Homo sapiens: one gene and its partner. The protein of the gene in region 2 purifies or fractionates together with the protein of the main gene of each other region. This does not show direct contact. Each region holds a gene or a part of one and is shown on either strand. Other genes may lie near its edges.

Region 1 (3,924 bases), on a different chromosome or scaffold from region 2:
TTCAGACAAGGATCTACACATTTACAGAGCTTAAATATAAAAGTCATAGTGGACATCCTCAAAAATAGTTGCTAAATTATTTTCTTTAAGCAAACCCAGATCTTAAGTAAAGTGAAAATCCCTGAACTTAATTTTAGCTAATTACTCCCCACTATAAGGTAAAATTTAAAGTACACTTTTAAAACAAGACTAAACACTAAAATCTTACTTGGTATCTAGAATTGGTCCAATCTTTTGTAGAGATTTGGCCACATTGAAGCGAACATTTGCTACTTGGTCTCCTGCCATTTTTAATACGATGGGCAGCATTTGCTTAGTAGTTATTTCCTGACCACAGGCCTCAGACAGTGCCTAGAAAAATAAGTAAGATGGCACATTTAAAATACTTTAAAAAATTCCAAAATCTAATGAAACAAATTAATATTTAATAAGAAAATAATTGACCAATAGGAAAATATTTCTAGTTTGAGCAGCTGAGTGGGGGACACAAGAATCATTCAAATGATCAGAGAATTAGACCAGAATTCACAAATAAGTTGAACTTTTAAAATACTGTAGTTTTGTTCTTTGTTTTTTTTTTTTTCAGGCGGAGTTTTGCCTTGTCGCCCAAGCTGGAGTGTAGTGGCGCGATCTCAGCTCACTGCAACCTCTGCACCCTCTGCCCCCTGCCCAAGGTTCAAGGGAGTCTCCTGCCTCAGCCTCCCAAGTAGCTGGGACTACAGGCATGCACCACCATGCCCGGCTAATTTTTGTATTTTTAGTAGAGACAAGGTCTTGCCATGTTGACCAGGCTAGTCTCAAACTCCTGACCTCAGGTGATCTGCCCGCCTCAGCCTCCCAAAGTGCTGGGATTACAGGCATGAGCCACTGTGCCCAGCCAATACTGTAGATTTTAACATGAATTTTAAAATTGACATTTTCTCTCATCTCCTGTCTATTCCAATTAATCAATACAAGACATATATTCCAAATAGAAGACAGTATACTGATAATTCAGAAATAGTCATGAATAATTTTGCTTTAATGATTAAGCTTAGCAATAACAGTTATGTTATACTTACATTAATGCAGAATAAAGTGGTCATTCTATGCAAGTAATTAGGATCATTTGCCATTACTAACACTTTGGGAACAATAGTATTTTGGGCCCACTCTGTACCAAACTTCTGAACTAGTTTCATGAGGTTGTTGGTGGCAGCTTCTCGGATGGCGTATACTGCAGAAGAGGTCAAAAACATGTTCTCATATCGCTTATTGTTTTTTAAGCATAACCTAGTTTACTTACATGAAAATCAAATGTGGACCAAAAGCAAAACCCCTCTGCAATCAGACTCCACATGTAATCATGCTGCAATGACAAGCATGCTCAGCTCCAACTCAGTTTCCAAGTGTGCATATCCACAGAAAAGGGATGCAAGGAGCTCACCATATGCATCATCAATTATTTAACAAATACAAGTGCCTACTATGTGCTACAAAAAGAACACAGAAGATACTTTCCCTCACAAGAAATATGCTCTTATCAGAGAAATGAAAGCTAACACACTCCATGAAGTCACATGGTGTAAGAGCAATTAGAATGAAGTGTGGCATTGTGTAGTAAAGGCTGTGAGGGTTGTAGCAGTGCAGAGAAGAGTGAACAGGGAAGGTCTAGGAAGGCTTCGGCACAGAAAGAAGCCTTGACTGGGCAGTGAAGATTTGGGAGGATCTGTGTAAGTGGAGAGAAGCGGGGAGGAATTCCTAGAAAGGGTAAAGACATGTATCCAGGACACAAACAGAAAAAACTGAAACCTGTGAGACTTCTAAGTTAGACAATTAGGGTGGACCCAGACTGCAGAGCATTATGAAAGACTTAGATTTGATTAGGAAAAACAGTGATGGGTTTTTAAAGCAAACTTGTGACCTGATGACCAATGTGGAATTTTAGCAAGATTATTCCAGCAACATCACGGAGAAGCGACGTTGACTGAGAAAGACAACAAGGAAATGGTGTAGAGGCCACTGTGGTCATCTATACAACAGCAAATACAAACATCAGACTGACTTGCTTCCTCTCCATGAAAATGCTTAGGTTGAAACAAGATGTCAAATGTCTTTGAATCAATGTGCCTGCCTTAACATCTAATAATTCCCTATATCCTTTGATCATTTATCAAAGACATAAAGCTAGATAATAAAGGTCTCAGCTACAATCCTCTCACAATTAGTTGCTATATACAGCACTGAACAAAAACAAGCCTGGTGTCACTTCACTTTACAGATCCAGTAAGACTCAAAATTTGGGCTCAGATTAACAAATCGAGGGTGGTAGGTACTAATTCCTTATTCTACTTCTCTCCCCAGGTGGGCCCAACCTTCCTGGGATGATAGGAAGGGCAGGAATAGCTATCCAAGCCACAGTCCCAGTCCTAGGCAATTTATACAAGCCTCCAACCAAGAAATAGGCAACTTCTTCTATTCATAGATCCTTCTGGGCAATGATGTTGAGAACAAGCAAGACAGCATAGACAAGTGACCCATACAACTGATTATCAACACTTAAACTGACAGTCTACAGGAGAAGCAACCTTTCGGTAAGACTCAGATGCACTAAGGAGCAAACTCAAGTCAACTGTTTTACTGTAATACAGATTCCTTCCCTTCATATCCATAGTCTTTGTCTTTGGCCCAAACCCTTCCCTGTCCTCCCCACTAAAGAGGAGCTAGCTAGAGTATTTGTGTCTTCTCCTCTAATTTTTTTTTTTTTTTTTTTTTTGAGACAGAGCCTCACTCTGTCTCTCAGGCTGGAGTGCAGTGGCGAGATCTCGGCTCACTGCAACCTCCGCCTCCTGGGTTCAAGCAACTCTCCTGCCTCAGCCTCCTGAGTAGCTGGGATTACAGGCGCCCGCCAACACATCCAGCTAATTTTTGTGTTTTTAGTAGAGACAGGGTTTCACCATGTTGGCCAGGCTGGTCTCGAACTCCTAACTTCAAGTCATCCACCCGCCTCAGCCTCCCAAAGTGCTGGGATTACAGGCATGAGCCACCATGCTCAGCAAATTACTATTTTTTTTAACACGCTTTAGATTTTTATCATAATGCCATTACCATAGGAAGGGATCTCTACTGCCAGAAAAACCAGAGACTGGGGAACACACATGCATAGCCTTGACCAAGACCTTAACTGCACTGAACTCTACTTGGCCAGATGCCTACTATGTTCTTGGTTCCTCTGACTGTTTTCAGAAGAATGCAAACCATTCCAGAGTTCTGCCTGTTTTCTTTTGTCTATTTCTGTCTCTTTCTCTCTCCCCATCTCCTCTCAAGGCCTGGCTGACCTGCAAGGTTTCTTTGAATGTCTATCTATGCTCAATAACTGATACCTTCTCCTTTCTCCTATAATAAATAAATAAATTTCCCTTCTACATTCCTCCCTCTGATCAAAACTGTCTACTCAACCACAGGAATATAGGTGAGTGATACTTTCTTCCTTATACTTCTCTGGAATTTTCACAATGTTCTTTTAGTAGTTACCTAACTAGGGGAAAAGTTTCAAAAACTCTAACTGATCCAGTGATCATTATATAACACTTATCTGAAATGCAAAAGCAAAAAAGCTCCTGTGATTAAGTACAAAACAATTTCAGAGCTGTTATTTCATTGGTTCATGGAACTCTTGCAGTCCCCACTTCAGCATGCTGCTGCAGTGAAATAAACAAGGGTTTCTCCTGCTCCCAAACTGAAAGAGAAAATCCGAAAAGAGGAAGGAGTAATCAAGTTGCATAGAGAAGACAATCTTACAGAGAAAGGGTGCCAGGAATTTAATTCTTTGTGGAATATTAGAACTTTAAAAATTCCTCAAAATAAAACACCATCTTAATCTAAAATGCCAACTTTTAAAGAAAGCATAGAATGACTTGAGGCCAACCCAAATGCCCATCAATG
Region 2 (4,498 bases):
AAAAATGAAAGAAAGAAAGAAAAGAACATTTTTAAAAAATTTACGAAGGGGAAAATGGACACAAAAAAGAAGATATACAAATGGCCAGTAAACATACAAAAAGGTGCTGAACATCATTTCACATCAAGGAAATACAAATTAAAACTATGATGAGGCTGGGTGCAGTGGCTCACACTTATAATCCCAGGATTTTGGGAGGCTGAGGCGGGCGGGAGTTTCACATGGTGAAACTCTGTCTCCACTAAAAATACAAAAATTAGCTGGGTGTGGTGGCACGCACCTGTAATCCCAGCTACTCGGGAGGCTGAGGCAGGAGAATGGCGTGAACCCGGGAGGCGGAGCTTGCAGTGAGCCGAGATTGCGCCACTGCACTCCCGCCTGGGCCACAGAGCGAGACTCCGTCTCAAAAAAAAAAAAAAAAACAAACCAAAACAAGACAAAACAAACCAAAACAAAAACCTATGATGAAACTGCACCACACAACCAATAAAATAGTTAAAAGACTAACCATACCAAATTACGGAGAGGATATGAAGCAACTGGAACTCTCATACATTGCTGGATGGAGTGTAAACTGGAACAACCACATGAGAGCTTCGTAGTATCTATTAAACATTAGCCTACCCTATGATCTAGCAATGCCACTCCTAAGTATTAACCCGGGAGAAAAGCCTTCATGTGTTCACCAAAAACACAGCAGAGTGTTCACAGCTGCAGCATCATTTGTAACAGCCCCAAATTGGAAGCTACCCAAATATCCATCAACAATGTAATCGACTAATATACTACAATATATCCCCAGTATAGTGAGAGCTAAGTACAATTACACTGAACAACATGAATGAATTTCACAAACATAATATATAACAAAAGAAGCCTGGCATAAAACAGTACATGCTGCATAATTGCATATATACATGAAGTTCAAGAATGTGTAAGACAGCCAGATGCACTGGCTCATGCCTGTAATCCCAGCACTTTGGGAGGCCAAGGTGGGCGGATCACCTGAGGTCAGGACTAGCTTTGCCAACATGGGGAAACCCTGTCTCTACTAAAAATACAAAAATTAGCCGGGTGTGATGGGTGCCTGTAATCCCAGCTACTCAGGAGGCTGAGGCAGGAGAATCGTTTGAACCCAGGAGGCGGAGGTTGCAGTGAGCCAAGATTGCATCACTGCACTCCAGCCTGGGTGACAAGAGCAAGACTCTGTCTCAAAAAAAAAAAAAAAAAAAAAAAAAAGAATGGGTAAAACTAGTTAATGATAGAATTCTGAATAGATTGTGTGGGGGAGAAATTACTGAGAAGTGGTATGAGGGAAGCATCTCAGGTCCTGGCAAAGTTCTTTGTATAGATCTAAGAGTGTTACACAGCTGTACACTTAAGATTTGCACACTTTATATAGGCTCTATGTATCTATTGACAGCCTCCTGCTCTGTTGCCCAGGCTGAAGGGCAGTGGTATGATCATGGCTTCCTGCAGCTGCAAAGCACTGGGCTCAAGCGATCCTCTCATCTCAACCTCCTGAGTAGCTAGGACTTATAGGTGCCAGCCACCATGCCCGGCTAATTTTTTATGTATGTATGTATTTATGGTAGAGTTAGGGTCTCACTATGTTGCCCAGGCTGGTCTCCAGCTCCTGGCCTCAAGTGATCCTCTCACCTTGGCCTGGCAAAGTGCTGGGATTACACGCATGAGCCTCCACACTTGGCCTACAAAAATTTTTTTAACTCTTGGAACTATGCTTTGGTAGGGATATGGAGCAATAAGATATTTCAAACATTGCTGTTCAAGTACAAATTTGTGCAGCCACTCGGGTATATATTTTGACACTGTTTAGTAAAGTGGAAGATATATGAACCGGCAATTCTGCTGGTAAATAAACTCAAGCATGTGTACCCCATGTGAAAGAATGTGGCTGTGTTGTTTATAAAATGAAAAGCTATAAATAACTAATAGGGCATCATTACTAGAAAGGATGAATAATTGTGGTATACTTCAGAAGGGAGAATATAGCAAAGAAATTGAATTAACCGCGATTTTATCTAATAGGGATGATTCACAGAATTGTAAAAATAAACCAAAGACAGTATGACAACATTCATATAAAGTTTTAAAACGGGGAAAAACTGGAGTATAATGCCTAGAGAAGTATACGTAAGTGATAAAACCTCACACTGTGTGACTTACCCTGCCACACAAACCTGATCACACTCCCACCATGGGGACATTCAGCTACAGACAATCCACGCCCAAAGCAACAGGGTCGCACACGCAGGGCCTCTATCGGTCACATAAGCACAAGTGCACGCTTACCGAGGAGGCAGTCACAGTCACAACCACATTGTCACAGTCGGCGCACACCTGTACCGGGTCACAGTCACGATCACACATTAACCACAGCCACACACACAGATAGAAACATGCAGTTACTCGCAGGTATCCCCACCTGAACTCTGCCGCACACAGTCACACAGCATATAGTCGCACACCACTACGGGGACAAACGCAGTAACACTCAACCAGGCACAAGCTCCCCACAGCCGCACACACAATGCCGCACGTGGTCCTGCTCCCTCTCACACACACACCAGCAGCCACAGTCTCCGAGGCCGTGCTGCACACGGTGTGAGCGTTGGAAACACACTCATCACAAGGGCAGCCTGTCACAATCGCGCGATCATTCACCACACACCTCCACACAGACGCAAGCGCACGCTTTCAATCTCACCTCCACCGCCGCACAAAGCCGAGGCTTGGCCCCCGGCCCCGCCCTCTCCCGGGTTTCTCACCTCAGGCCTTACCAGCTTTCGAAGCAGCAGAACCCTCCCCGGCACTGGGGTAGTTGCTGGTAAAGCCCTGAGGGTCCCGCCAGCGCGTGAGTTGGAAGCTGAATTACCGCGAGAAGTACAGTCTTGCCGAGGAGACCTCTGGGAAGCGTAGTCAGAGACGTATCAAGGCCGGACAAGATGGTTCCCGATCGTCAGAATTCCTGTCCGCGCCTTGCGTCAGCCCCGCCGAAAGGATCGCCCCCCCTAGTCAAACCGCTCGCGCCCCAGAGGCCTCATGGAGTCCCGCCTCAGGCTCGGGCCTTGGCCCCCAAAGAAAGCCACTCCGACGTGTTTGAGATGGGCTTAGTTCCCGGACCCGTCCTACTGCCCCCAGGCGCTGGACAGCCTCAGAAAGAGGACAAGTCTGCATGGAAAGATAATCGCACAACTGAGCCTTCTGGGAGATGTAGTTCGGAGCTGGGAAGGCGGTTGGACCCTCCGAAAGTCATCTTAATTGCTCTCACAGATAAGCCGGTGCTGGGCTGCCGGCCTGAGTACTGTGCGCCCAGAGTGCGCAGGCGCAAACATCCTGGGTTGCTGTTTTGGCCTCTTTGTTCGGGCGTGAATTTTGTTTATTGCTCCTTAGTGCAGAGGGGTTATGGGACCAGAGGTTGTGAGACTCAGAAGTGGTTGGGGACGCAGAAGGGGTGTAGACCAGGAACCTGCGACCTGATGGGGGGAGGTCGAAGGGAAAGGAATCGCCAAACGTGGGACAGGTTTGGAGAGGCAGAAAGAGAGGAGTCTGAAATTGCAAAGGGCAGGTGTTATTCTGACTTCTGTGTGCTTTGTGATAAATGAGTGGGGCAGGAAGTAAGAGGAGTTTCACTTTCTCCTTCTGCAATTATTTGTGTACTTGGACTAAGTGTATCTCATGGCCAGTATTTGACTGCTTTTGACCTATAAAGGTATTGTATACACAGTCATGCATAGTTTAATAATAAGGATATATGCTCTCCCCACGGTCTCCCTCTCCCTCTCTTTCCACGGTCTCCCTCTGATGCCGAGCCAAAGCTGGACTGTACTGCTGCCCTCTCGGCTCACTGCAACCTCCCTGCCTGATTCTCCTGCCTCAGCCTGCCGAGTGCCTGCGATTGCAGGCGCGCGCCGCCACGCCTGACTGGTTTTCGTATTTTTTTGGTCTCCACCAAACACAGGGTTTCGCTGTGTTGGCCGGGCTGGTCTCCAGCTCCTAACCGCGAGTGGTCCGCCAGCCTCGGCCTCCCGAGGTGCCGGGATTGCAGACGGAGTCTTGTTCACTCAGTGCTCAATGGTGCCCAGGCTGGAGTGCAGTGGCGTGATCTCGGCTCGCTACAACCTCCTCCCAGCCGCCTGCTTTGGCCCCCCAAAGAGCCGAGATTGCAGCCTCTGCCCCGCCGCCACCCCATCTGGGAAGTGAGGAGCTTCTCTGCCTGGCCGCCCATCGTCTGGGATGTGAGGAGCCCCTCTGCCTGGCTGCCCAGTCTGGAAAGTGAGGAGCGTCTCTGCCAGGCCGCCCATCGTCTGGGATGTGGGGAGCGCCTCTGCCCCGCCGCCCCGTCTGGGATGTGAGGAACGCCTCTGCCTGGCCGCGACCCCGTCTGGGAGGTGAGGAGCGTCTCTGCCCGGCCGCCCCGTCTGAGAAGTGAGACCCTCTGCCTGGCAACCGCCCCGTCTGAGAAGTGAGGAGCCCC

The links.
Region 1: the proteins of ZNF566 (region 2) and PPP2R1B purify together in Homo sapiens (co-immunoprecipitation; one large-scale study listed by IntAct). This does not show direct contact.

Annotation. Positions count from the first base shown.
Region 1 is NC_000011.10:111,742,315-111,746,238, forward strand, and holds part of PPP2R1B (serine/threonine-protein phosphatase 2A 65 kDa regulatory subunit A beta isoform), read right to left. Parts: intron 1,217-3,924; coding exon 1,062-1,216; intron 352-1,061; coding exon 209-351; intron 1-208. UniProt on the Homo sapiens protein: The PR65 subunit of protein phosphatase 2A serves as a scaffolding molecule to coordinate the assembly of the catalytic subunit and a variable regulatory B subunit.
Region 2 is NC_000019.10:36,486,685-36,491,182, forward strand, and holds the start of ZNF566 (zinc finger protein 566), read right to left. Parts: upstream 2,878-4,498; 5' UTR 2,802-2,877; exon of another isoform or gene 2,790-2,801; intron 2,752-2,789; exon of another isoform or gene 2,729-2,751; intron 1-2,728. UniProt on the Homo sapiens protein: May be involved in transcriptional regulation.